4 linked regions of the Homo sapiens genome follow. The protein of the gene in region 1 interacts with the protein of each later gene in a biochemical or structural test. Each region holds a gene or a part of one and is shown in the gene's direction. Other genes may lie near its edges.

Region 1 (6,870 bases):
CTGAGGCACAGAGGAATGAAGTTTACATGGTCACTGTCACTTTCTTAGTCCGTTCTGGCTGCCATATATAACAAAATACCATCAACTGGGTGGCTTATAAACAGCAGAAATTTATTTATCACAGTTCTAGAAGCTGGGAAATTCAAGATCAAGGTACCAGCAGATTCAGTGTCTGTTGAGGGCAAACTTCCTAGATGGCGATCTTTTCTCTAATCTCACATGGCGGGAGGGGCAAGGCAGCTCTCTGGGGTCTCTTTTATGAAGGCGCAGTGAGAAGCTCAGCAGGTTTGTGAAAAGAAAAAAAAATACATAAGGGCACAAATCCCATTCACCTAATCACCTAATCGCCTTCCAAAGGCTCCACCTCCAATTACCATCATGTTGGGGATTAGGTTTCATCATGTCAATCTTGGTGTGGTGGGTGATGGGGTAGAGGGCTGGTCTATAAACATTCAGACCATAATAATCAGTAAATAAACAGGCCCAGGATCTAACCCAGATATGATCAGTTACAGAGCTAGTGATCTTCACCAGCCTGGGCAACACGGTGAAACTCCTTCTTTACAAAAAATACAGGTGGTGTGCATCTGTGCTCCCAGCTACTGAGGAAGCTGAGGTGGGAGGATTGCTTGAGCCCAGGAGGTTGAGGCTGCAATTGCACCACTGCACTCCAGCCTGGGCAGCGGAGTGAGACTCTGTCTCAAAAACAAAAACCAGTGCTCTTCAAAAATGAAGTTTTTGAAATGGAAAAAGTAGGCCAGGTGCAGTGGCTCACACCTGTAATCCCAGCTACTCTGGAGGCTGAGGCAGGAGAATCACTTGAACCCAGGACGTGGAGGTGGCAGTGAGCCGAGATCGCACCACTGCACGCCACCCTGAGAGACAGCGAGATTTCGTCTAAAAAAAAAAAAAAAAAGGTTGGACGTGGTGGTGGCTCACACCTGTAATCCTAGCACTTTGGGAGGCCAAGGAGGGCAGATCATGAGGTCAGGAGTTCAAGACCAGCCTGGCCAACATGGTGAAACCCCATCTCTACTAAATATACAAAAATTAGCTGGGTGTGGTGGCACGTGCCTGTAATCCCAGCTACTCTGGAGGCTGAGGCAGGAATATCGCTTGAAGCCAGGACTTGGAGGTTGCAGTGAGCCAAGATCGCACTACTGTACTCCAGCCTGGGAGACAGAGCAAGCCTCCATCTCAAAAAAAGAAAAGAAAAGAAAAAAAAAGTCCAAGCGCGGTGGCTCACACCTGCAATCCCAGCACTTTGGGAGGCCAAGGAGGGAGGGTCATCTGGGTCAGGAGTTCGAGACCAGCCTGGCCAACATGGTGAAACCCCATCTCTACTAAAAATACAAAAATTAGCCAGGTATGGTGGCAGGCGCCTGTAGTCCCAGCTACTTGAAAGGCTGAGGCAGGAGAATCATTTGAACCCGGGAGGCGGAGGTTGCAGTGAGCTGAGATTGCATCACTGCACTCCAGCCTGGGCTACAGAGCAAGACTCTGTTTCAAAAAAAAAAAAAAGTGAAAAAGTAATACATGTATGTAATCCACAATTCAAATCACATCAAAAGTGCAACTACTTTTATCAATTTATGTATTTTTCCAGCAATTTTCCGTGTGTACATATGGTTTTCATGCATGTCAGCATCCTTCACACACAGTTCTGTACCTTGCTTGTTTTTTCCTCTTAGTATATCTCAAATTATTTATACTTCAGTACATGAAGAGTTTCCTCAACGTTTTTGTTTGTTTGTTTATTTGTTTTTGAGACGGGGTTTTGCTCTTGTTGCCCAGGCTGGAGTGCAGCGGTGCGATCTCAGCTCACCGCAACTTCTGCGTCCCGTGTTCAAGCGATTCTCCTGCCTCAGCCTCTCGAGTAGCTGGGATTACAGGCACGCACCACCACGCCTGGCTAATTTTTTGTATTTTTAGTAGAAACGTGGTTTCACTATGTTAGCCAAGCTGGTTTCGAACCTCTAACCTCAGGTGATCTGCCCTCCTTGGCCTCCCAAAGTGCTGGGATTACAGGCATGAGCCACCGCACCTGGCGCTTTTTGCCTATTTCTTTGAGACCTGGGGTTTTGGGTCACAAAACAGGCAAATGCCATGAGCCACCCTCCTCCTCTTTCTCCATCTTCTTGTGCTGCCTCAGGTCAGAGCACTTACCTGCTCCTGCCTTCTCACTGGGTTTCCTTGTCTCTGGCCTATTTGTCTCCAGAGGGGTCAAAACACTTCAAATCCTCCTATTTGTCTCTGTCCACTGTCAGGAGTTCCAGTTCCCAGAACCCCAATTTTGCCTACAAAATAGCGTGTCTTTTCACGGGGAGAGGATTTGTTGAGTTTTAGTGGGTACTCAAAAAGATCTAAAGCCAGTTGGGGGGGTTCACACATGTAATCCCAGCACTTTTGGGAGGCCGGCCTGTGAGGGTCGTTTGGGCGCAGGAGTTTGAGACCAGCCTGGACAACACAGCAAGACCCTGTCTCTATAAAAAATAAAATAAAAATAATTAGCTGGGCATAGTTGCGCACGTCTGTGGTTCCAGCTACTCGGGACGCTGAGGCGGGAGGATCGTTTGAGCCCAGGTGCTTGTTGAATTGAGCTATGAGTGCACTACTGCACCCCAGCCTGGGCAACAGAGTAAGGACCCAGTTTCTAAGAAAAGAAGATTCATTAGCTAGACGCGGTGGCTCACACCTGTAATTCCAACACTTTGGGAGGCCAAGACGGGCGGATCACTTGAGGCCAGGCGTTCGAGACCAGCCTGGCCAATATGGTGAAACCCCGTCTACTAAAAATACAAAATTAGCTGGGCGTGGTGGCTCACACTTGTAATCCCAGCTATTCGGGAGGCTGAGGCAGGAGAATTGGTTGAACCGGGGAGGCGGAGGTTGCAGTGAGCCAAGATCGCGCTACTGCACTCCAGCCTGGGTGACAGAGTGAGTACCCCGCCTCAAAAAAAAGAAAAGAAAAAAGATTCATGATCTGCTAAAGTTGAAGAAGTGGGGGAAAACATTGGAGTGTTAGCGGCGTCAAGATCGGGCGTGAGCAGAAAGGGCACAGCATTTGCAAAGGCGTGGAGGAGTGATTTTATTGCGTTCTATCCCTAGGAAGCAATGACTTGGCCTCTACCATTTGCAGAGCGCATTGGGACCCTGCTCCCAGAGCTGGTTTGCAGTCTGGGAACTGAGATGCGCTCTGGGACTTGTAGTTTTCCCCAGTGCCAGGAAACTCAAAAATCGAGACATCGGATCCCACCACGAGGTGTCGCCCTTGAGCGAGTACGGTGGGATCTATCCTATACTTCAGAAGGCTGTTGCAGACATCCAACAATCACAAGGAAGAACGGGAGTTTTTCTGATTGACAGATATGGTTCTCAATGATAGTCAAGATTCGGATGTTAAAGCCCGCCCTCTTTTGCCTGGTTGGCTGGAGCAACGAAGTGATATTTATATGAACCAATGGGAAATTCTTAGGGAACGAGGTAGTAGCTCAATCCCCAACACCATTGGTCCACATTGTCTACTGGCACGTCTGCCTGCCAATAAGATGGTGGAACTTCGCCAATGGGCAGAGCCAACGTGCCTTTTTCGGAAACACCCCCTTCCTCTCTTGACAACTTGCTTTCTGCCGCTATTGGCTGTTGCACAACAGTGACGGTTCTTTTGTCCAATAAGTCAGCAAGACGGTCCCCAGGGGGAAGGTTTACTCAACCATAGGCCCGTGCCTAGTTTTTATTGGCTAGTGTATCCGAGTGGCGGTGCAGCAGGCCAGTCGCGTGCGGCGCGAGTGCTTTGGGCGCAGCCCCCGGGGCCGGGGCGGGAGGTCGCTCGGGTCGGGTGTCGCCTGAGAACCGGATGAGGCGGCGACCGTGAGGCCGAGCCGGGAGCGGGCGTCTTGCCGAGGCCCGGGCGGGCGGGGAGCAACGGCTACAGACGCCGCGGGGCCAGGTCGTTGAGGGTCGGCGGCGGGCGAGGAGCGCAGGGCGCTCGGGCCGGGGGCCGCCGGCGCCATGGGCAACCGCGGGATGGAAGAGCTGATCCCGCTGGTCAACAAACTGCAGGACGCCTTCAGCTCCATCGGCCAGAGCTGCCACCTGGACCTGCCGCAGATCGCTGTAGTGGGCGGCCAGAGCGCCGGCAAGAGCTCGGTGCTGGAGAACTTCGTGGGCCGGTGAGCGGGCGCGGCAGGGATCGCGGGCGGGTGGCGGCCTAGGGCGCGGAGGGCGGACCGGGAATGGCGCGCCGTGCGCCGCCGGCGTAACTGCGGCGCTTGCGTGCCCGCGGCGGGGAACCGGACGGGGTCGGGGAGGCGGGCCCTGTGGGACGCCCTGGGCAGAGGACTCCCTGCAGGGGCTCCGGAGCAGGCCCGGGCCCCAGGGGCGGTGTCACGGGCCAGGGCGCCGTAGGACAGGAGGTGCGCTGGAACCCTGCGGTCCATCTGGTCCCAGCTTTCGTGGGTGAAGTCTGCCATCTGGTTGGCCGTGGGTCTGGGGTAGATCCCTCTTCTGCTCTTTCGGGCTGTCCATCAGAGGTGAAACCGGCCATCTAGATATCTATTGGGGCGACCGCTGCGGTCTGGCTGGCTTGTTCTTGTATCTGGAGCTGCCCCCGCCGTCTGGTTGGCTGTCTCTCTGTCCTGGGCAAGCCTCCCTGCCACCACCATTTGGTTGTCCATCTGTCCAGTCCCACCTGGCAGCCCCCTGCTGTCTGGCTAGCTGTCCAGGGTGACCTCTGCTGTCTGGCCGCCCATCCGTGCCCCTCACAGACTTTAACACTGAGCAGTCCCTCTGTTGGGTGACACCAGCTGGCCTCTACTGTCTGACTGGCTAGCTGACTCCTAGGGGACCCTGTTTGATTCTCTCTGGCTGACTCTTACAGCTTGATTCCTGGCTAGCGCTGGCTCCTCTCTTCCGTGTGAATTCTTCTGTCTGTCTGGCCATCTCCTAGTCTGCCCATGACTACCCCTGAGTGTCTGGCACAACGGCTCTGGAAAGGGGTGGTAGGAGGGTAGAGGGGAGAACAGAGCTGAAGGAGGAGGTTTGGACCCTACTTCCCCTCTCAGCTGGAAGGAGGACTCTGGGGGTACCTTACTTCAGGATTCCTTTCCGAGTGCTAGAACACAGGGGCCCGCCTCCCAGCTACAGCCTACAAATTGGGGGCCCTCCTTTGGAGCCTGGGAAGGGGCTTCTTGCGTGATCAGGCCTCAGTGGCTAGCGCTGGGATGTAGCCTTCTCTGGACAGCCTTGAGAAGCCGCGGTGTGCCCATCTGTCCAGTGGGCAAACTCCACTCTCTGGGGCTGTTTCCAGGATTCAGGAAGCAAATGAATGAGAACAGCCCGTGCAGCCACCTCTCCCTCCCACCAACCCCTCTTGCCTTTCTTGTCTCCCAGATGGGCGGCCACTTCTCCATTCCAGGAACTACTCATTTGTGGTGGTGTGGCTGCCAAATGATAACATCCTCCTCCTGTCATTATTGTCATTGTTATTGTTGTTATCATTGTCAAGGGATAATGTCCCTTCTTGATTCAACATCTTGAATCCCAAGTAAGGAGTGGGGTGGAGGCTGTGTTATCATCCCCACCTTAGCTGAGCTGGGAGGCTCAGAAGGGACTGTGATCACCCAAGGCCACTAGGCTGGCGTAAGGCCTTGTGTCTGCCATCCCAGAGCCTTGGGGCTTTGCTCCAAGCAGCACAAATCTCCTCTTTTGCTACCTTGTCTCTAGCTCATTGCCTTCTGTCTACCGTGGTGGAAAGGTGTGGACTTGCAGCCAGCTGGGCCTGGCCTGATCTCAGGCTGGACTGTGGTGTGGGCCCCTTTGAGTGACCATCTTCCTGCCTGCCCAGGCTTCTGGGACGGGGGTGGGGGGTGTTTGCAAAGCTCTGTCTCTTTCACTTGCCTTGTGACCTTGCACAGGTTGTCTTGGCCTCTCTAAGTCTTGGTTGACTCTCCTAAACAAGTTTATTTTATTTTATTTATTTATTTATTTTTTTTTTTTTTGAGACAGAGTCTCCCTCTGTCATCCAGTCTGGAGTGCAGTGGAGCAATCTTGGCTCACTGCAACCTCTGCCTCCCAGGTTCAGGCCATTCTTCTGCCTCAGCCTCCCGAGTAGCTGGGATTACAGGCGTCTACCACCAAGCCCAACTAATTTTTGTATTTTTAGTAGAGACGGGGTTTCACCATGTTGGCCAGGCTGGTCTCAAACTACTTACCTCAAGTGATCCTCATGCCTTGGCCTCCCAGAGTGCTGGGATTACAGGTGTGAGCCACCAAGCCTCGCCCCAGGAGTTCCAAGACCAGCCTGGGTAACATGACAAGATGCCATTCTACAAAAAATAAAAAAATTAGCCAGGTAGGGTGGTAGTCCCACACCTGTAGTCCCAGCAACTCAGGAGGCTGGCCCTGGGAGGACTGCTTGAGCCCAGGATGTCCAGACTGCAGTGAGCCGTGATTGCACCATTACCCTCCAGCCTGGGTGACAGAACCAGATCCGGTTTCAAAAAAAGAAAAGAAAAAGTGCTTACTTACCTAACGCACTGCCTGGCACATAGTAGGTCTACATGGATGGGGCTATTGTTGTTTATCTGGCTGGTTCCTTTGCTATCAGGGACAAAAGCTAACCAGAATGAAAGTGCTTTCACGTTACACACTTAAGCCTTATGAGGGAGGCATTGCTATAATCCCCATTTTACAGAGCAGGAAACTGAGGCTCAGATAGCTGAGCAGAACACTCTCACTGGAGGCTGTAAAGTGAGGAGTTAGGTGTTCTGGGTTGGGAACCTGGGTCTCTCTCCCATCCTTACCTCTCCTCAGTCCCTCTACCCCTTGCCTTTCTCTCCTGTCTACCATGGTGTCTGGCAGCTGCCGGCC
Region 2 (7,653 bases), on another chromosome or scaffold:
ATGGGGAAAGACTTCAAAGGAAAAACACTGCAAATGGGCACTGGAGGTGGCAGGATTTTGTGGGGAAGTCAGAACTATTTCAATCTGCAATGGAAATAGTGATGATGGTACAGATGAAGAGTCTAACATGAGTCACCCACTTGGTTAAGCACTTTCTTCTCCTCTGTGATTGGGTTAAAAGGGTTTATCTAAGTGAAAAGGAAGTTTTTGCAGGGAGAGGCCCCTGTACTTTGGGGGGAGGAGGGCTATATGGGAGAGAAGGAAAGGTGGGAAAGGTGGCCATCCCCGGCAGAAAGACCCACACATCCACTTCAAAAGAGGTTAAAAAAAAATGCTTCTCTCTGTGTATCTGTTGGAGAGTGGGTGGTAGGTGACAAAACTGGAAGCAAGGAAACAAAGATGGTCTTTCCCTTGATTTCTCATCTCTAGGAAAGGGCGTGTTAGCCCTGCCTGAGCTAGGTGGGTGTTCAATGCTACTGGGGCGCATCCAAAGGCACAAAATCTTATGTTAAGCGCCACTCACCCTGGAAAAACTGGGTCCTGCGCAATCGAGGTTTTAGTATCTGGTGAAGGCTTTTGAACATCAGATCCAATGTGGTCAGAAGAAAGCATCAGTGTCAATGATACATTGTTCATTCTTTTATTCATTCATTCATTCATTCAAACCTCTTCTATTTATTAACACTGACTAGAGGCTCTACCCTGAATTGAGGCTAAAGGCTGGAGTAGAAAAAGTAAGGATAAGTCACTTCCCTTCATTGCCTCTGTTTTCCTATCTCTAAAATAAGAAGTTGGAGTTTAATGCCTTTGCTTTGCAATGTTTCTTATGCTTAACGAGCTTACACATGAAGTCAGGAGTAGTTTGCCCCGGTATGAGCCAGAGGCACAGAGACAGGGGTTGAAGCTCAGAAAGATGAATGCTGCTGCTTTTCCTCTGCCTCCTTGAAGCTAGGGACCCTCTGAAAGGTGCCAGGGATGCAGCAGCTCTGTGCAAATGAGAGGTCTGGTATTTGCCAGAAGCTTTACCATAATGCAAGGAGAAATAGTGCATGAATGATGTGATGGGATTATTGCTGACCACGAATTTACTGCCCAATTAGTGAGGTGATATTTTGTGGGGGTTTCATTTAATTGGGACTTTCCTGAGCAGATCTAGGTTTATTTAACAGTTTACATTGATTTTTATCTCGGGAGACTAGGGCAGCATGCTGAATTACCACAACCTTTTACCAAACAAAGCTCTTCCTCGTTGACTTTTGATTCCCCTTTCCCTGCATTGTGCTTCTGCATTTCTCTCCAAAGCCTCTGTTGAAGATTCTTTGCAACCAAAGATGGCATCCATGCTTAGAATTGTTCAGTGTCTGGGGTATTTGTTCCTCTGTATTCAAGTAACAATAAATGTCCCTAGGAAGATTTTTTTTTCAAATTACTCGTCTGGAAACCCCTTGGGATTCAAGGTCCAGCCCATACATGCCTCGATACTTCCCCTTCTCAATCCCAGCATCTCCTACCATGATGCTTGCTAGTAGGAGGAGCTTAACAAATTTCTTCAAAGGTGACATCTCAAAGGTCTTTACAGGCATAAATTGTGGCTTCAATACAAATGCTGGGTTTAGATGATGTATCAGTCTGTTTTTACGCTGCTGATAAAGACATACCTGAGACTGGGCAATTTACAAAAGAAAGAAGTTTAATTGGATTCACAGTTCCACCTGGCTGGGGAGGCCTGACAATCATGGCAGAAGGTGAAAGGCACCTCTCACATGGCAGCAGACAAGAGAAGAGAGCTTGTGCAGGGAAACTCCTGTTTGTTTTTTTTTTCTTTTATTATTATATTTTAAGTTTTAGGGTACATGTGCACATTGTGCAGGTTAGTTACATATGTATACATGTGCCATGCTGGTGTGCTGCACCCATTAACTCGTCATCTAGCATTAGGTTTATCTCCCAGTGCTATCCCTCCCCCCTCCCCCCACCCCACAACAGTCCCCAGAGTGTGATGTTCCCCTTCCTGTGTCCATGTGATCTCATTGTTCAATTCCCACCTATGAGTGAGAATATGCGGTGTTTGGTTTTTTGTTCTTGCGATAGTTTACTGAGAATGATGATTTCCAATTTCATCCATGTCCCTACAAAGGACATGAACTCATCATTTTTTATGGCTGCATAGTATTCCATGGTGTATATGTGCCACATTTTCTTAATCCAGTCTATCATTGTTGGACATTTGGGTTGGTTCCAAGTCTTTGCTATTGTGAATAATGCCGCAATAAACATACGTGTGCATGTGTCTTTATAGCAGCATGATTTATAGTCCTTTGGGTATATACCCAGTAATGGGATGGCTGGGTCAAATGGTATTTCTAGTTCTAGATCCCTGAGGAATCGCCACACTGACTTCCACAATGGTTGAACTAGACACTCCTGTTTTTAAAACCATCAGATCTTGTAAGACTCATTCACTACCACGAGAACAGTGTAGGAAAGACCCACCCCCATAATTCAATCACTCCCACTGGGTTCCTCCCACGACACGTGGGAATTGTGAGAGTTACAATTCAAGATGAGATTTGGGTGGGGACACAGCCAAACCATATAAGATGAGGTGCAGAGGATGCCTGGGCGACTAAATCAATGGTTTCCAAAGGATTTAATGTAATGCCCTTAAGTAGTTTTTTTCTCCCAAGGTAGTTTCTTTGAAGTTAAGCAGCATGAGACTTCCAGGTTGGTGGATGAAGAACCAGGGAAAGATAGAAACTGCCTTTTTTATAATGTAGGGCTCAGTTAAGTATTCAAAGTTCCAAGGAGGCAATTCAGGCCCCCATTTCACACCTTTCACTGTTAGAGAGCAGAGCTCCTATCCATCCCAGGCCCTTCCACTTTGTAGATCAATTGCTCTATCTTTTGGCAGCTTCAACAAAGCCCTGTCTTATGAAAATGCTTTATTGTTCAGATCAGGGACCTGGTAGTAAAAATTAACTATAAAATACTTTTTTTTCTATTATGCAAGTAATGGGTAGCCTTTTTAAAAATTGGAAACATAGAGAAAAAAGTTTATTCCTAACAACCGGAGCCTCAGTGGATTAAAATTACTCAGGTTTCTCACTGATGCTACATGCCCATTGAACGTCAGGTGGGGACTCTGCACTGCTTTAGTCTCACTCTGGATACTGGCTGACAGACCACAGCTTTCTAGAATATTGCGGCCGAGGAAAAGAAAGCTTTGCGGCATCTCATACATCTCATATTGCTGCTGCAGAAGTGACAGTCACTTTTCCTCTTAAACCTCTAGTCAAAACTTGTAACCATGCCTCCACTTAACAAGAGGTTTGGAAAGTGCAATTCTGCCATGTAGGGAAAGGTATATGAACAGTGGTAAGGGCTACCACACTGGAGAATAGCTCCTTTCATCTGCCTCCCTTTGCAGCCTGCGTCCCTAGTCCATGCGCTCTACTGCTCCAGTGCCCACCACTGCTTGACTCTGCCTTTGTGTGTGTCAGTTCACATTATCAAGAAGGACCATGACTGGTAGCTCTACGGATGGAGGACCCTTTTGTAGCAGGTGTTCACCCTGTGCCCAAGCCGCAGTGCCTAGAAGAGTGGGGATGGGTCTGTGGCTCCTATCAGGCTGCAGGAGTTGCGGAGACAGAAAAAGTATTTCTAGGACTCCCATTTGGCCTTGCAGTCTCTACACATCCTTGGCAATTTCTCCCATCTTGGCTTCTCCTTCTTATCACTTTGGTCCACATACGGGGACAGCGTCTAAGTTCTTTCTGACCACCTCCTCAGTCCTAGAAAAACCAGACTTGGTTAAGTACCAGAGCACAGAAGGCATTTAGTGCTGCTCTGCTCCCAAGTCATCTATTAGTTTCACTTTAGCCAGCCATACCTCCTTGGTTACATATGAAGCATCTGTATATAACTTAGTATCATGCTTTTTCACATTATATTTTGATTTTTATCGGACCGGAAACCCTAAATCCACAAGCATAACAACAAGATCACATTTGGGCTTTTTCATTTCTGTAACCAGAGGATTGAACGCTAGTTTTGTAGTAAGACTTCAATTCTATTTATCCGTCCAGGCTTAAGGGTTCCTGTTCTTCTTTTTAAGTCATTAAATTGTATCAGACAAGGGGGAAAACGCGTGTGTGACTTTCCCTAAGGTAAGATGGGCTTAAGGGATATTGAAACCAGGGCAGAGAAATGTTTTCTGTGACCCACCAGTCAGGGCAAGGCATAGAAGGAGCAATGACTTATTCATTAGCCCAGATAGAAGGCCAGTCTTTTTCAGGCTGCGGCGCAGAGACGCCAGGCTCAAAGGGCAGGAGGGCCGTCTGCAGGCAGCGCCGCCGCGGCTACCTGGAAGCCCAGCAAGTCACCTGAGTCCTGCGGGTGCCTGGGCTGCCAATCTGCAGCGACCCGTCCGCAGCCCCCGGGGGCAGGAACACCAACCCCGGGACAGGAGGACGTCCTCGGCCCGCTGACTAGGGATCCGCCAGCGGGTGCCGCTGAGCCACATCCCCGCAGTTGGCGCCAGCATCCAGGTACCGCGCGCCACAGCACCTGCCTGGGCGTTCCCGCGCTTGGGGCGGGGCTTCCCGCGTCCCCTTTAAGAGGCCGCATCACCCGCCCTTGACGTCAGAGTGTTTCTCCGCAAGAGCCCGTGTCCCGCTAGGCTCCGCGCCCTCGCGCCCATAGCCCCGGCGGCGGCACGACCAGAGGCGGCCAGGGGAGCGCGCCGCCCCGCTCGGCCCTCCAGTCCCCCTCCGCCTCCTCCCTCCCGCACAGCAGCCGCCAGCGCGGCCTCCTGCACCATGTCGGTGGCCGGCCTCAAGAAGCAGTTCCATAAAGCCACTCAGGTAAGGCGCGCGGCAGGTGCGTCCCGGGGCAGTCCGGGGCGAAGCTGCGAGGGGCGCGCTCGGCGCTGGCCGTCCGGCGGCAGCTTGGGGAGTTCGGCACCGAGCCTCGCCCGCGCCGGCCGCGCCCCGCCTCGCAAGCCAAGGCGGCGGCTCGGGGCATCCCCGGTCTGGGCGTCCACCCTCGGTCCCCCGCCCCCGGCTTGGTGCGCGCTGCCTTCCCGCGGGTCCCCGGCGTCCTGCCTGGTAGCGCTGCTCGCCGCCCCCGCATCATCTCGCGCCCGTGCTGCAGGAAGGGGACCGCGGCTGCACTGCTGCCGCGGCGCGCAGGTGCCTTGGCGGCGCGGTGGGAGATTATGTAAAGTCGCCTCTTCACGGGTGACCTTGCGGAGTCGGTGCACCCGGCTTTCCCGGGATGTGTTGGCATGAGCGGTGGCCGCACTGGGGGTGGCGGGGCGGAGGCCGGCGGTTTGCGCTCCTCTCCCTTACCCTGTTGTCAGAACCCTCCTTCCCCGCCGCCCGCAGGCTCCAGGGGAATGGAAGGCTGGGGTCTTCCTTTAGGGACCCGCATACATTAACTTTTACCTGGAGAACTCGGTCGTGAAACTCCTTTGAGGCCAGGGCATGACAAACAGTCTGCGGGTCTTAAATATTTCCCTAAAACAACCAAATTGTTGAAGACTTAAAATCATCATGTATTTTAAATTGTTTTTAATAAATCTTTGGCATCTTGGATGTGCCCATTTTTCTTTATGGGGTTAATAAGCTGTGACTGTAATAAAACTGATTAATTTAGATTCTAATAATTAAAATCATTGGACTCAAAGAATTTTACATAGGGGCAAGTAAGCGAATACTTACGCTGTGACCTATTTCTTACATAATGTGTGTGATTACTACTTTTTTATCCTTCTGAAATAGGTTCAAATTTATGGGATCTTTAAGGATTTTGATGACTTACCGCGAAATGTTTTTCATGATTTGGTGTTAAATAGTTTTTCATAGGTTAGCCTTAATTAACGAGCTTTCTCATAATTTCTCGGAAGTAGTGAGGTTTTTCCTAGGCTACCACAGTGGCAGCCTTGTTATGAACCACATCCAGAAAAGGTGAGGGTTGTGTTTTACAGAACCTTGGTTAACTTAGGGTGACAGATGCAGCATGTAATTCCCGTCGTGTGTGTGTTTGCACGCATCTGCATCATCTTCATCACACATTCTTGCCTTTATAGAATCAATTATACCTGTCAACTTAGGAAATCAAGAAAAGTAAGACTATTTCTGTAAAAATGTTTCTTAATGTAATTATTTTTGCTTTTCTATTATAATTGGAGTTATCTGTGACCTCTCTGCCAGACATGTTTATGAAAGTAAGTGATTTGTTTGTTGATGTAGTTTGGAAGGCTTCTAATAACTTTATACTGCAAGTTCTTTCAGGTTTACAGAACCAAGCATATGTGCTGCCCAGGAATTCTGTGGCAGGACTTCTTCGATATTACTAACCTTTTTGATTGCTCTACTGGTCACTTCTCTATAGCATATCTCAGCACTGCGTTTACCAACACATCTTTTTTCCACTTGGATTCTAAAGATTTCTTTTGCAAAGCTTAGTGCCCTCAAAGGCAATTAAGAGTCTTGGCTTTGGAGTGGGAAAGGCTAAGGTTTGAATCCTGCCTCTGCTGCTTCTGACCTTGAGAGAGTATTTAACTTCTGAACCTGTCCATGCTGAAGTGATGATAATTTCCGTTGTCTCTTCAGGGTTGAGGTGAAGAGAAACGAGTGTGTAGAACACACGTATAAAGTGTTCAATAAATTATAGTTATTGACATAAAGGATATTTTTATTAGTATAAAATACTATCCCTTATGCTGTGAAGAAGTTACCCAAGCTAGACCTTTTAGTTTTTCCAACTTAAAAAATAGAGCGCTCCATTTCCGCTAAATCTTGAAGTTCTGTGTCGCCCTAAAGTGTAGAAAAAATAATTTAAACTGCGTTAGGAAAGAACTTAAAAGGTTGGAGAAGGTCGGCATGTGATGCGATACGGTTAATGTTTATCACACCGAATCCAAATGCAGAATCACTGCGTCATTGTCTTCCTTTTACTGAAAAGCCTTTTATTTGAAAGGTGAAGCAGCACGTAGTCTCTTATCCATAATTTAGTGTAGCACACTCTTAGAAAGTCTAAGGCACAGGTGACTGTTCTGTGCATATGTATATTTAGGAGAGTATGTAAAGCCCATGTTAATGTTTGCATGTGACAAAAAAATTAGAGAAATAGTCCTGTCCTACTTTTGTAGCCATTTTTTTCCATCAGGTCCGTGAACCTGATGTTATCTACAGAGAAGCTTTAGACCTAGAATTACTTCCTTTTGAGAACTGATGTGCTGGATAATATAGCCTGGGTTTGTTTGTTTGTTTATTTATTTATTCATTTGAGACAAAGTTTGACTCTTGTCGCCCAGGCAGGAGTGCAATGGCGTGATCTCAGCATACTGCAACCTCTGCCTCCTGTGTTCAGGCGATTCTCCTGCCTCAGCCTCCTGAGTAGCTGGGATTATAGGCATGCACTACCACGCTCAGCTAATTTTTGTATTTTTAGTAGAGACAGGGTTTAGCCATGTTAACCAGGCTGGTCTCGAACTCCTGACCTCAGGTGATCTGCCCGCCTCGATTACAGGCTGAGCCCCCGCACCTGGCCTATAGCCTGGGTTTATAAGTGGAAGGAGTCTGTTCACGCAAACGTTTCTTTCTATGGAATTGAGCTTTTTTGCTTGTGTTAGTAAGCGATGATAAATAA
Region 3 (4,876 bases), on another chromosome or scaffold:
CCTATGGAACCCTCAGCCCAAGGGACCCAGACACTAGAATAATCACACCCCAATTATTCACTAGGGGAGGTGCTCCGAGCTCTGGGGAGGCCCCTATGCTGGCTTCCTTGTCCCTGGGGCCTCATGTGAGCCTGGTGCCCTGTCAGGCTGCAGTGGCAACGCTGTCTGGCTGGAGCAGGACTGGGGCATCTGGAGAATTCTCCAGGCTTTTCCAGGGCTCCTTCCCCGGCCTGGCTGCAGTCAAGTGCCAAGGTCCTAGTGCTGGGCCTCAATGTGTGACCTGGGCAAGTCATTCACACTCTCTAAGGCCAGGGCCCTGAGTGTTGGGGTCAGATTCAGAATCTAAGGACTCTCCTGGTTCAGGCCTTGAGTGACGAAGGTGACAGCCCATTGGGAGCACTATAGCCAGCTTAGGGAGCCCTCGTAGCCAGGCCTTTGAGGGAGGCCATGTGCCCTGTGAGCATCCACAAGGGTCTGTGGGTTTCACATGGTGCCTGTGCCCCCACCGCCATGCCACCACTCTTCAGCCACCCTTCAACCAAGAAGGCCCTGCCTCTGGGAGGTAGTGGACTGTGGGGAGAGGCTGATGCAGTTCCCGGCCCTTCCCAAGGACCAGCTCATTCCAGGGCCTCAGGAGCCCCTGGAACTTCCTACTCCTGGGAGGCAGAGGCTCGTGGGAACCACCCGTGCTTAGAGAGGGCACACACACACCCTCTTTGAGAATCTTGTGCAAGCAGTGACCCCAGGAGGCAGCACACCCGCAGCCTCACATGCTACAAAAGCTTGTGAGACAGGCTTCCCTGTGCCTGGTGAGGACCTGGATCCCAGCAAAGGTGGTCATTTAAGCAACTGGACAAAAGAGCTCACCTGAAGCAGTATCAGGAAGGGGCAGAAAGGAGTGGCCCCAGAGAGGATTAGAGAGAGAGAGAGAGATGTCCTGCAGGGCCGAGGGAGGCCTGGCTGCTGGAGGGGGCTGGTCAGGCCTCTGGATGGGGCATCTAGAAGCCAGGCAGGACTGGGAAGAGGCGGGGGTCAGTGACTGGGAGTCAGAAGTGTAGACAGTCTGGGGAAAAGAGGTGTGGGGGCACGCAGCACAATGGCTCAGCAAGCCCTGCACCCCTTTCCCCCTGCCCTGGCCGCTTCCTCCACCTGTCCCCAGCCCCTGCTGGCTTGCACCCTGTCCTTTGCTGCCTGGGGAGCTGGCACGTGTGTCTGCCCGCCTGTGTTGGTGTCAGGCCCTCCCATGTGCTGGGTCCACGCATGTCCACCCTGCGCATGTGTGTGCACTCCTGGGGCCTTGGCCCTCGGCGCCTCATGTGGGAAAGGCCCCCCACATGCCACCTTGAATTGCAGGGCTGCCCCCCACAGGCCCCTGAGTCATGGCTCAGCCCCTCACCTGCATTCAAGATCCCTCAGGGTCTGGTCCAGTCTCTATTTCAGTCCTGTCCCCCACACACCCAAATTGGTCCACTCCACTCCACAAACCCCACCTGTGCCATGCCTCCTCCCCTGCACCTGAGCCCTCCCTCTCCTGGTCACCTGCAGTGCCTCGCTCCCCCTTCTCTCCTAGTAAAGCTTCACTCATCTTTGAAGACTCAGCCCCACCCCACTAAGAAGCCCTCTTGCCTTGGAGGCAGTGTCAGCCTCTACTTGTTGAGCCCTCACTACTGCCCACTTCAGGGGGTGCCCCCAGCATCTGCCGCATCTGCCTCTTCTGTTTTATTTTCCTTTATTCAGTAAACCTTCATGACCCCAGCTCAGTCCAGGCCTAAGCCTGGTGCAGGGGCAGGGGTAAAGTAGCCCAGCGCTGTCCCGGAACTCCTGTGAACAGGGTGGCTGAGCTGGCCTGATCACCGTGGGCCCACAGGGAGGAGGGCTGGCTCGGCCCAGGCAGTGGAGGCCTCAGCAGGGCACGTGAGCCAGGCTTTGTGTGGCAGTGCACCCCCCACCCCTACCCATGGGGGAAGCTGCTAGGGCAAGCTAGAGCAGGGGCCTGGAGGGTGAGGACTGGGCATCTTCCCACGAGGCCTCAGTGCGGAGGTCCTAGAACCCCCAAAGGGCCATGGGAGTCTTCCAATGAAGCTACAGCTTCGGGGGTTCTAGGATCCTCCCAAGGGCCCTGCAGGGAGCAGGTGCTGAGATGGCCTGCAGAGGGCGCCAGTGGAGGGCGTAGCTGGGGAAGGAGGAGCCACCAGGACTACTTTCTGGGGAGCCCTCCTGCCTGAGGGGCACCTCATAAATGACATCCATGCCTGGAGGCTAGGGGCAGTCCCAGCCCTGGCAGAGCGCGTGCAGCTCTGAGACCTCTCCCTGTCTAAACCCTCCCTCCTGGTGGGTCCCTGAGTGTGGGGCGGGGACACTCACCCTCTTTCCTCCCTGTTCCCAGGTTCTCTGGACTGCTGCACGGAAGTCCCAAGACCACTTCGTTGGCAGCTTCTGCTGGTAAAGGGGGTCAGGAGGGGACCCCCAAACACACTGATCCTGGGGGGGAGGAGAGGTCTCCCACATGGCACAGATGGGGCCACTGAGGCCCTCAAGAGGAAGTGTGTGTCCCCCAACAGCAAGTGTGGACAGCAGAAGGAAGAGGCAGGGCCCAGCATGGAGAAACCCCATTCTAGTAGGACTTCCAGGGGCCAGTGTCCCCAGAAGGGGAGGGGTCTATGTCTCACCCTGCTCTTAGCGTCCACAGAGACCCTGACCCCCACCCCCGAGCGGAATGAGGGTGTCTACACAGCCATCGCAGTGCAGGAGATACAGGGAAACCCGGCCTCACCAGCCCAGGAGTACCGGGCGCTCTACGATTATACAGCGCAGGTGAGGCCTCTATACCCCAAACCCACCTGTGCCACCTCCCCTGCACCTGAGAGCTCCCTCTCCCATCCAGTGCCTTGCGTCCTCATCTCTCCTCATGGTTTCACTCATCTTCGAGCATCCTCTCCTCCTCAGGAGGGCACGTGTGCCCGAGTGTGTCCACACTAGCAAGGGTACCTGGGAGTGTGCTTGGATGTGAGCTCTGAGAACAGCACCCAGGGCTTGCGGGGCCTCAGTGTGCATGTACTGACTGGAAGCTGGTGTGCAGCAGGCCTGTGTCTGCCCGGGCCTGTACACAGCACACACGTGGAGCACATGTACCTATGCCGTCCACACAGGCTGGGCGCTGAGTGGTGCACACGTGCGGGGAGCTGGCAGAGCCTGGAGCTGCCTGCAGGTCATAGCTTGAGGGCCAGGCTCTGTGCCTTTGGGTCAGGGCCCTGTCCTTCGTGGCCATGGGTGTGGAAAACTGTGGCCAGAATGAGTCTTGCTATCGTGCCAGGATTGATTTTCTGATGTCCATAGGGTGAGGATGAACCAAGGCAGCCACAGGGCAGCTATGAGAGTCCTTTCTGCTCCCTGCTTGAGGGGAAGAATGCATAGCCAGACCTCACATCCACCTGGACTGAGGCCAAGCACCCCCACATAGCCAGGCAGGCTGGGTGTGGACTCCACTGATGAGGCCAGGGCTCGGGGAGGCAGGGAAGCCAGGCCAGGAGAGTGATGGGGTACTTGGATGGCAGTGGCTAGCTGGGGCTGGGGACCGCAAAGGGGAGGCTTGTGGTAAGCTTAGGCATGAGTGTGCCCTGGGCTTGGGGTATGATGAGCACCCGTGACCCCTGACATGCTCCAGTCACTGCGTCTCCAGAATGGGAGAGGGGAGGTGAGGCTGGGAAGAAACCCAGGTTGGGGGAGAACTATGATGACAAACTGAGGGGGATGGGAGGCCCGGTCCGTTGGGTTACCCCCATCCTGTGTCCCCAAGGGGCTGCCCCTGCCCACCCTGGGAGACATGCCGCATTTACTGCTGGGTGGGGGAACGCCAGGCCCCTCCCTGCAGGCCCTTCCCTGCAGGCCCTTCCAACGTCATGCGCTTTCAATCTCTTGGCCAGAACCCAGATGAGCTGGACCTGTCCGCGGGAGACATCCTGGAGGTGATCCTGGAAGGGGAGGATGGCTGGTGGACTGTGGAGAGGAACGGGCAGCGTGGCTTCGTCCCTGGTTCCTACCTGGAGAAGCTTTGAGGAAGGGCCAGGAGCCCCTTCGGACCTGCCCTGCCAGTGGAGCCAGCAGTGCCCCCAGCACTGTCCCCACCTTGCTAGGGCCCAGAACCAAGCGTCCCCCAGCCCCGAGAGGGAGCCTGTCGTCTCCCAGGGAATAAAGGAGTGCGTTCTGTTCTCCTTGGTGTGCTGGGGTCCCGTTCTCTTTTTCTCCTGCTCCAGTGTCCGAGTGCTCAGTTCAGAGGAGGCAAAGGAACAAGGGAAGGAGCCTGGATGTGGAGCTCCCCAACTCAGCCGAGGCTTCAGCTATAGTTGGAGAAGAGGCCTGGCCCCAGTTGCTAGGAGCTCCCAGACTGCCAAGGAGACACATTCACACCTGGACAGAGGACACAGGGGTGCAGGAGGATGTGGCAGGGGCAAGAAGGGGCTCAGCAGGGCTGCAATGGGGAGAGCAGGCTTCTTGGGGGCGGAGGGTTGAGCAGGTCCATGGCTGGGCAGCAGTGGCCAGGCCAGGGCAAGTGCGTGGGCAAAGGTGAGGTTGGGGGTACACCCAGGAATATTCGGAGGACTCAGTTTGGAAACAGGAAGCTGGTGATGGATCTGTTGGAGAGGCCATGGTGGGAGCCCAGGAAGACAGGCTTGTGGCTTGTGGGTGCAAGTGGGGCCTGGGGAAGCCACTGCTGCCCATGACACTCCCCTCAACATGGCAACCCCGGCCGAGCAGGGGTCCACAGCCCAGGCACGTTGGCCCCGGGCACAGAGGGAGCTGTTCTTGAAGGCCTTCAGCCCCTTCTCTTTTTAGTCCCAGGAACATAACTTTCACTGCTGGCCAAGCCCTGCTCCAA
Region 4 (7,725 bases), 4.0 Mb from region 1:
TGCAACCTCCACCTCCCCAGCTCAGGAGATCCTCTCACCTCAGCTTCCAGAGTAGCTGGGACTACAGGCGTGCACCACCATGCCTGGCTAATTCCTGTACATTTTTTGGTTTTTTAGTAAAGACAAGGTTTTGCCATGTTGCCCAGGCTGGTCTACAATTCCTGGGCCCAAGCAATCCTTTTGCCTCGGCCTCCCAAATACTGGGATTACAGGCGTAAGCCACTGCCTGGCCCTAAGTATATTATTTAAAAAGAAAACATTTTATCTACAGAAAAGCAACATGGTTTTGTCAGACCCTGGCCCCAGAATCCCAGTTCCTGGGACTCAGTTTTCTTGTCTGAAGAGCGGAGATGATCACAGGATAAGGAATGGGTGAGTTAGTGTATTAAAGCTCCGGGACACCGGAAGCACTCAACATGTGCGAACAATTGTTATTCATTCTCACAACAACCCTCTGTATCCGGGTCTTCTGCCCTGAGACACCAACACCCGCGGAGTCCCTCTCTCCTTCCTTCCAACAATCAGAAGACTTGAAGGCAAAACTAAAAAGTAAGTGGCTTTCTCTCTCTGCTTCTCATCCCACCTGATCAGCCCAGGTGCGTGTGGGCATCACACCAGGGAAACGCAGACGAAGGATCTGAGCGAGCCCCCGGTCCCCAACTCACTGCAGATCCTTGGTGTTGATGAGGAACAGGACCAGGAAACTGCTACTGTTTTTCTGGAGAGGGCAGTCCTGGAAATCCCGGGTCTGGGGGGTGGGCAGGAGGGAGTGAGTCTTGGTTACTCCTCTCCTGGTCCAGCTCCACCCTGTCTCCCTCCCTGTCCACCCACGGGATCTTCCTGCTCCTGCCTCTGACAAAGAACAGGGGCCCTTGGGTTACAGATGCAGAGGACAGACCCTACCCCCTCCCTCCAGCCCCTTCTCCCGTCTTCCCCATGCCCTCCACTCACTGAATAGGAGCGAACTCTGCCAGACCGAACCCGGCTGAGACTGAACCCCACCTGGTGGGTGGAAAAAAAAAGGGGAGGGTGTGAGGGACAGTAGAGACCTCCCAGCTATCCCTTTCAGTAGCAATAGAAACCTAACCTCACATTTACTGAACACCTAACATGTGCTAGATCCCACACGCTCTTTTTCTTTTTTAGAGTTGGGGTGGTGGGTGGACCTCATTCTGTTTCTCAAGCTGGAATACAGTGGCAGGATCATAGCTCACTACAGCCTCGAACTCCCAGGTTCAAACGATCCTCTCACCTCGGCCTCCCGACTGGCTGGGACTACAGGCACACCTCACCACGCCCGGCTAATTTTAAAAACTTTTTGTAGAGACGGGGTTCTCACTATGTTGCCCAGGCTGGTCTTGAACTCCTGGCCTCAGGCAATCCTCCCACCTTGGCCTCCCAAAGTGCTAGGACTACAAAGCCTGAGCCACCGCGCCCCGCCTGTCCCCCAAGTCTTAAGAAAAGTGCCTAGCACATCCTGTGTAAGACATCATTACTCCCAGGTACAGATGACGAAACAGGCTCAGAGAGATGACGGGACTTGTACAAGATCACATGGGTAGCGGCAGAGCTGGGAACCCAGAACCGGGGGATTGCACCGTGCTCTCCTCCAGCAAACTCCTCAAGGTCCCTCACCAGCAGGGACTTCTCTTCTGCCTCCCGGAGGCCCAGCCGCAGGACGCTCAACTCCACCTCCAGAGAGCCATTGGTGTAGAAACCGAAGCTGTTCAGCTGGATGTCCGCTCGCTTCTCCCCCTGCCGGAGACCAAGGAGGCAGAGGCAGTTCAGACCTCTTTCCGCCTGCCCAGCCCCAGGGGTCTGGCACGAGGACCTCCAGAAGGGCCTCCTGGTACCCCTCTATTTAGGACAGGCCCAGAGGATGACAAGAGAAAGTTGAGAGGGACTTCCTCCCTGCAGGGGAAGGGTGGTCCTGCATTCTCCGACCTCTGTTCTGAGAACCCAGGAACAGAGATCCTGCGGCACCTGGAAGTCTCCCCACTGGGGTGAGCACCGCCCGGAGAACAGTTATTCACCTCGGCGTGCCTGACCTTCACCTTCCCGAAGAACTTTTACATTCCAGTTGAGCTCCCAGCAATATTTCAACAGAACCCCCCAAATCCCATTAAGTGCCCAGAGGACCCCACTCTATAGCCCCCCAGGACCCCGCTGTGCGGCTCCAGGGTCTCTAGCGCCCCAAAAGTGATTCCAAGAATTTAAAGGACTAAGACCCAGTTGGGGGGAAGGGGGGTGTAGTCCCCAAGAGATGGAGCCTCGCCCCCGAAGGGAGGGGGCCGACCCCAGCGAGGCGGACCCGGCAACTCCATCCGGAGGACCGAAGGGGATCCCGGGACGAGACCACTCCGGGCCCGGAAACGGGGGGCGCCGGACCACTCCACCGCCTCGGGGACGGGGGAGGGCGGACGAGACCACTCCAAGCCAGGGGGCTTCTCCGAGACAAAGTTGCGCCACCGACCCCAGACCCTCGCGCGGCGGGCCTCACCGTCAGCGCCAGCTGGTGGATGCGCCCGGAGCAGCCACCCAGCAGCAGCACCAGAAGTAGCCGCTGCCCCCACTCCGCGGGGCTCCCGCGGCCGAGCCCCCTCCTCTCGCTCACTGCCATCTCTGGAGCCACCTCCTCCCCGACTCCGCCTCTGGCGCCCAAGCCCGCCCACCGATGAGCCAATCGCCGCACGGCGGGGCCCGGCCTTTCGGAGTTTCCAGTCCGCCAACCAATCAGCAATTGCCTCTCCGCAAGCCCGCCTGCTTGCGTCACCGACGGACAGCACCGGTTCCGAATGGGAGAGCCGATAACGCTTAACCCCCAGCTCACTCTCACCAATCGCTATAAAGATTGTCCGGATGTGATTTAATGAGCAGTTTATCTAACCAATTGTCATGGATCTGATATCCGGCCCTTAAAGCGGAATTTCTCCACCCACTCTTAACTGTCCGGGACTACATTACCCAGAATGCAGCGGGAGCAGACAAGGGCCACAAAGCATTAAATAAACTACCTTTCCCAGTATCCCCAAGGACGGACTTCCTCTTCTTGAGCCAGGGATGTGGCTCCCAGCCAGAGCTGAGGCTTTTGGTAAACACACGCATCTGTTCAGGCCTGACCTGTTTTCCTAATCTTCCTGGTCCACAGAGAGGCCTAAAGCTGGCCTCAGGTTAAAGTTTGACCCTAGGATGACCTATGACCCCAGGCTGAGACCCCAGCCTTAGGCTAAGCCTTTTATTCCAGAGTGAGGCAATTGGAGCCCCACCCCCAGATTCCAGGCTAGACCGGACTCCGGGCTGAACTCTGACCCCAGGTGAACTCCCTCTCTGCAAGTTGAGTCCTAACTTCAGCCTGAAACTCTGACACCCCCTCGTCCCCCACACCACACACTGAGGCTTAATCTCTGGTTTAGGCCACCGATCTGGACTAGCCCTGACTCCAGATTGGACCTGACCCCTTACCGGGTTGCTAATCCTTCTGGTTAAGCCTCTGGCCTCTATCCCCTATCCCCACGGTGGTGCTGACCTGGACTGAACCCCAATTCCAGTTTGAGTCTCTGAGCAGAGGTGAACTCAGAACTTTGCTAGGCTGAGCCCCCATTTGAGACTAGCCACAGAACTCACTGGGTTCAATTGCCCAACTGCAATCAGACATTTTCTAGCTCAGAAGCCACCAGCAGGTGGGGCCAGGTCTCAGCAGAGACATCAGTCCCAGTGTGGGCTCCCAAGGCTCTCCTCCTGGGCTCAGCTGTATCTCTCTGTTCTGGGAGCCTGGGTGCTCTGTGTAAGGGGAACGTATACCCAAGGGCCCCCCTGCAAGACGCCCAGCCTTGTCTGAGGCTGCAGAGAAAGCGCCAAAGCCCGGAGAGAATGGGAGTGGGAATCCCCAGTGCCTCCTCTCCTCTTTCATTCCAGCACCTCAAAGGGATTTACAAGGTGTGAACAGACTTTTATGGGAGAGGTGACAGACTTCCCTTCTCCAGGGCCCAGATGGCCCAGATGTCTGGGGGAGGGGCGGAGTCGGAATCTCAGGGGCAGTACTGAGAATGAAACCAGGTTAAACTGGAAAATGGGCAGATGCAGGCGCGAACTGGAAGGCAGCTGGGGAAAGGCCTGGGCCTGGCGCCCCAAGGACGGCCTGTCTTCAGTTTCCCAGCGGAGACTCTGGGGGAGGGAAGGCAGGATGCGGTGCGGGAGTTAATGGACCTGGCCTTGGCGAAGGCGCGTCCTGGGTTGGATCGAAACCCTCTCATCCGCCCTGTGGCCGGAGGGACCAGACCATTAGTGGGACGAACCTAGACGCCTGGAGCCGGGCCGGCTCGCAAGAACGGGGTGACCTCAGGTTGCCCCTGCAATGGGGTTGAGGAAGGACTTCTTGAGTTTGGGGTTTTAGTGTCTTGGCCCTTTAAGGAATAATTGCGGGGAAAGGGGAAAAGGAGATGGGAAGAACCGTTTGGAGCGGGGAAGGAAGATGAGAGGACGAGAGGGACCCCGGGGATTTGGAAAAAATGGGTGGGGGTTCTTTAAGGGGTCGGTCCAGCGGCGTCGAGTGGCAACGTTGCTTTAAAAGGGGGCGGAGCGTCCGTTGGGCCCCGCCCCCGAATCGCAGTGCTTGGGCTCCGCGCGGGTGGGGGCGTGGCAGAGCGTGCAGGGGGGCGGGGAAGAGTCTGGGGTGGGCGGGGCCGGGCGGGGCGGGGCGGGGCCAGGCGCACCGCCCTCGGCTGAGTCTCCCCGGGGAGGGCGGCGGGCGGCGGGCGGCGGGGACCGGGTGCGGTGGTGGCTGCGGCGGCGGCGGCGGGAGCAGCATGGATTGGGGCACTGAGCTGTGGGTAAGTCCAATCGGCCCGCCTCTAAGTTCCCCTTTGCTGGGGTCCAGGCACCCCCCTTTTGTCCCCAATGTATCTTAGAGGGGGCTCCGCGCCTTTCCCTTCCACCGACCCCTGGGTCCCCGCCCTCCACCCTCCGCTCTCTCTCGAAGTTTATCTGGGAGTCTCAGCACGCTCAGGGGCGAAGGGCGACTTTGCCGGACCGGAGTGGGGAAACTGAGGCACAGGGTTGCGAATGAGGCGGGCAGAAGGAATCCTGGGGCCAGGCCGGGGCGGCTGAGAGAGGTCACCTATTTTGGGCGCCCTGGCCGGGCAGGCGGCTTATCTTACGGCCCCTGGGTCCCTGCCCGTCGTCCGCCTGTCCGGCTAGGAGGGGGGAGGGGACCCTCTGGTCACCCTCATCCCCACCCACGTGGGACCTAGAAGTCCTGACCGCCCTTTCCCTCGCCTTTAATCAACACCTAGGGGCTGGGGACGCTCATGGAGGGGAAGGGGGATGCTAAGCTCGGCCTGATCCCCCTCCCTGGCTTCCCCCTGCTCACCCCAGGCCCAGGGCGGGACCGCCCCCTGGTCGCCTATAACCTCAGCCCTGGAAGCCCCAGAAATTTCCCCCTATCCTAGCCGGACCTCTGACCCCTCCCCTTGCTGGGGGCGGTGGAATCCCTGAGTTCTTAGTGCAGCGGGGGTAACCAGACTGCCACCCCCTCCTCCAATTCTGCGATTTCTTTTGGATGTGTAGTGGGGTCAGTGGGGTAAATTGAGTCACCCATCGGGGGATCCCTGGAAGCAGGGAGATTCAGGGAACCTGGTGCCTGCCCCCTGGCCACTCAGGGGCCCCCAGTCTGCCAGGAACCCTGCCCCTCTGGCCTTGACTCACGCCGGGCCGGCCGGATTTTCCGGAATCCGGGGGGATTAGGGGAGCCCGAGCTGGGGGAGTGGCCCTGTCCCCTTCCACGCCCCTCTTGGCGGTCCTATGTCGGAGACCTCCATCTCCCGGCCGGGGTGGCTGGGGCCTGGGCGCTGTTCTCCGGCCCTTCCCGGGAAGGGGAGGGGGTTCCCGCCAGTTTCCTGCCTCCCCCCGCGCCACGCCGGGGCGGCGCCGGGAAGCCACTCCTTCTAGGAGCGCAGAGCCTTGGCCCTCCCTGGGAGTCTGGTCGGCGGGCTGTGGGGTCCCAAAATCGTGACCCCGGCCCCTCTCCCCTCCTCCCCCACCATGTCCCATGTCAGGATCAGTTCGAGGTGCTCGAGCGCCACACGCAGTGGGGGCTGGACCTGTTGGACAGATATGTAAAGTTCGTGAAAGAACGCACCGAAGTGGAACAGGCTTACGCCAAACAACTGCGGTGAGACCCTGGGGTGGACGCTACGGAGGACGCGCCTGGGGCGACGGGGAGCGGTGGGAGGGCTGCGGGCTCAGCCCTCCTACCTCTGTCTCCCCTTAGGAGCCTGGTGAAAAAATATCTGCCCAAGAGACCTGCCAAGGATGATCCTGAGTCCAAGTAAGGTTGGAGAGGGGCTGCAGGGCTAGATTTGTGGGGAAAGGCGGTGCTTGGGTCTCACTTCCCCTCCCTCAGCTGGGACACCCCACCGCTCCTCTCACTTCCCCTTCTAGAGGTGAGAGCATGGATGCAAGATGCGGGATTATCTGGCTTGGAATCCTGAGTCCACTACTATGTAGAGAAATTGACTTGGGCTTGTGACTCAGGTTTTCTGCCACTATTTTCCTTAACTGTTAAATACAGAGGCCCCAGCAGTTACAAAACCAGTAACTTTGGGCAGATGACTTAAAGTTTTGCGCCTCTGTTTTCCTCATCTGTGAAATGGAATGATGACGATTCCTCCAGCTTTGTAGGGCTTTCATGAACACGAGCTGAGTGAATGTGTTTAAACAGTGTGCAGTCCATATCAAACGCCGTAAGGAGCATTTGACTTGGAATTGAGTCCCCAATTCCAAAATCCAAAAAAGCCCTGGAAATCAAGTTGTTTTGGTCACTTGTTTGGCAGCAATCTCTGACCTGAACTTTTTGTTAATTGTAGTTGTTTTGTTTTGTTTTTGACAGAGTTTCACTCTGTCCCCCAGGCTGGAGTGCAGTGGCGCCATCTCAGCTCACTGCAACTTCCGCCTCCCAGGTTCAAGCGATTCTCCTGCCTCAGCCTCCCTAGTAGCTGGGATTACAGTCACCTGCCACCATGCCCAGCTAATTTTTATATTTTTAGTAGAGACAGGGTTTCACCATGTTAGCCAGGCTGGTAATTGTAGTTTTGACTTTTATCCCACTTAGTGTGAATGTTAACACCTCTCATTGTAAAATTAAAAAAAAAAATAGGGTTGGGCACAGTGGCTCACACCTGTAATCCCACACATTGGGAGGGTGCGCAGGTGGATCACTTGAGGTCAGGAGTTCGAGAGCAGCCTGGTCAACATGGTGAAACCTTGTCTCTTCTAAAAATACAAAAATTAGCCAGGCGTTGTGGTGCGCGCCTGTAATCCCAGCTACTCAGGAGGCTGAGGCATGAGAATCGCTTGAACCCGGGAGGCGGAGGTTGCAGTGAGCCAAGATCGCACCACTGCACTCCAGCCTGGGCGACAGAGTGAGACTCTGTCTCCAAAACAAATAGATACGGTGTTTGATTACAAAATGATGTCCCCAACCCCACTAAGATGATGCAGAAAAGATGGTATAAGCTTTGTACACCATCTTTAAAAACTGGAAAATTCTGTGTTCCAATATACATTCGAGGTCCAGTGCGGTGGCTCACACCTGTACTCCCAGCACTTTGGGAGGGTGAGGCGGGAAGATGCGGAGTTCGGGGGGATTGGAGTTTGAGACCTCATCTGGAAAAAAAAAATTAGCCAGGTGTGGTGGCGTGTGCCTGTGGTCCCAGCTATTTGGGAGCC

Evidence for each region.
Region 2: the proteins of DNM2 (region 1) and SH3GL2 interact in a biophysical measurement, tested with the Homo sapiens proteins (2 studies listed by BioGRID and IntAct, with this or other methods).
Region 3: the proteins of DNM2 (region 1) and PSTPIP1 form a complex in vitro, tested with the Homo sapiens proteins (one study listed by BioGRID).
Region 4: the proteins of DNM2 (region 1) and TRIP10 form a complex in vitro, tested with the Homo sapiens proteins (one study listed by BioGRID).

Annotation. Positions count from the first base shown.
Region 1 is NC_000019.10:10,714,232-10,721,101, forward strand, and holds the start of DNM2 (dynamin-2), read left to right. Parts: upstream 1-3,847; 5' UTR 3,848-4,011; coding exon 4,012-4,172; exon of another isoform or gene 4,173-4,272; intron 4,273-6,870. UniProt on the Homo sapiens protein: Catalyzes the hydrolysis of GTP and utilizes this energy to mediate vesicle scission at plasma membrane during endocytosis and filament remodeling at many actin structures during organization of the actin cytoskeleton.
Region 2 is NC_000009.12:17,574,426-17,582,078, forward strand, and holds the start of SH3GL2 (endophilin-A1), read left to right. Parts: upstream 1-4,640; 5' UTR 4,641-4,817; coding exon 4,818-4,862; intron 4,863-7,653. UniProt on the Homo sapiens protein: Implicated in synaptic vesicle endocytosis. May recruit other proteins to membranes with high curvature. Required for BDNF-dependent dendrite outgrowth.
Region 3 is NC_000015.10:77,033,122-77,037,997, forward strand, and holds the end of PSTPIP1 (proline-serine-threonine phosphatase-interacting protein 1), read left to right. Parts: intron 1-2,386; coding exon 2,387-2,442; intron 2,443-2,680; coding exon 2,681-2,814; intron 2,815-3,923; coding exon 3,924-4,055; 3' UTR 4,056-4,354; downstream 4,355-4,876. UniProt on the Homo sapiens protein: Involved in regulation of the actin cytoskeleton. May regulate WAS actin-bundling activity. Bridges the interaction between ABL1 and PTPN18 leading to ABL1 dephosphorylation.
Region 4 is NC_000019.10:6,734,957-6,742,681, forward strand, and holds the start of TRIP10 (cdc42-interacting protein 4), read left to right. Parts: upstream 1-4,723; 5' UTR 4,724-4,805; coding exon 4,806-4,829; intron 4,830-6,053; coding exon 6,054-6,169; intron 6,170-6,268; coding exon 6,269-6,325; intron 6,326-7,725. Other genes in the region: protein GPR108 isoform 3 precursor, read right to left, coding at 666-748, 952-1,002, 1,636-1,755, 2,501-2,620. UniProt on the Homo sapiens protein: Required for translocation of GLUT4 to the plasma membrane in response to insulin signaling. Required to coordinate membrane tubulation with reorganization of the actin cytoskeleton during endocytosis.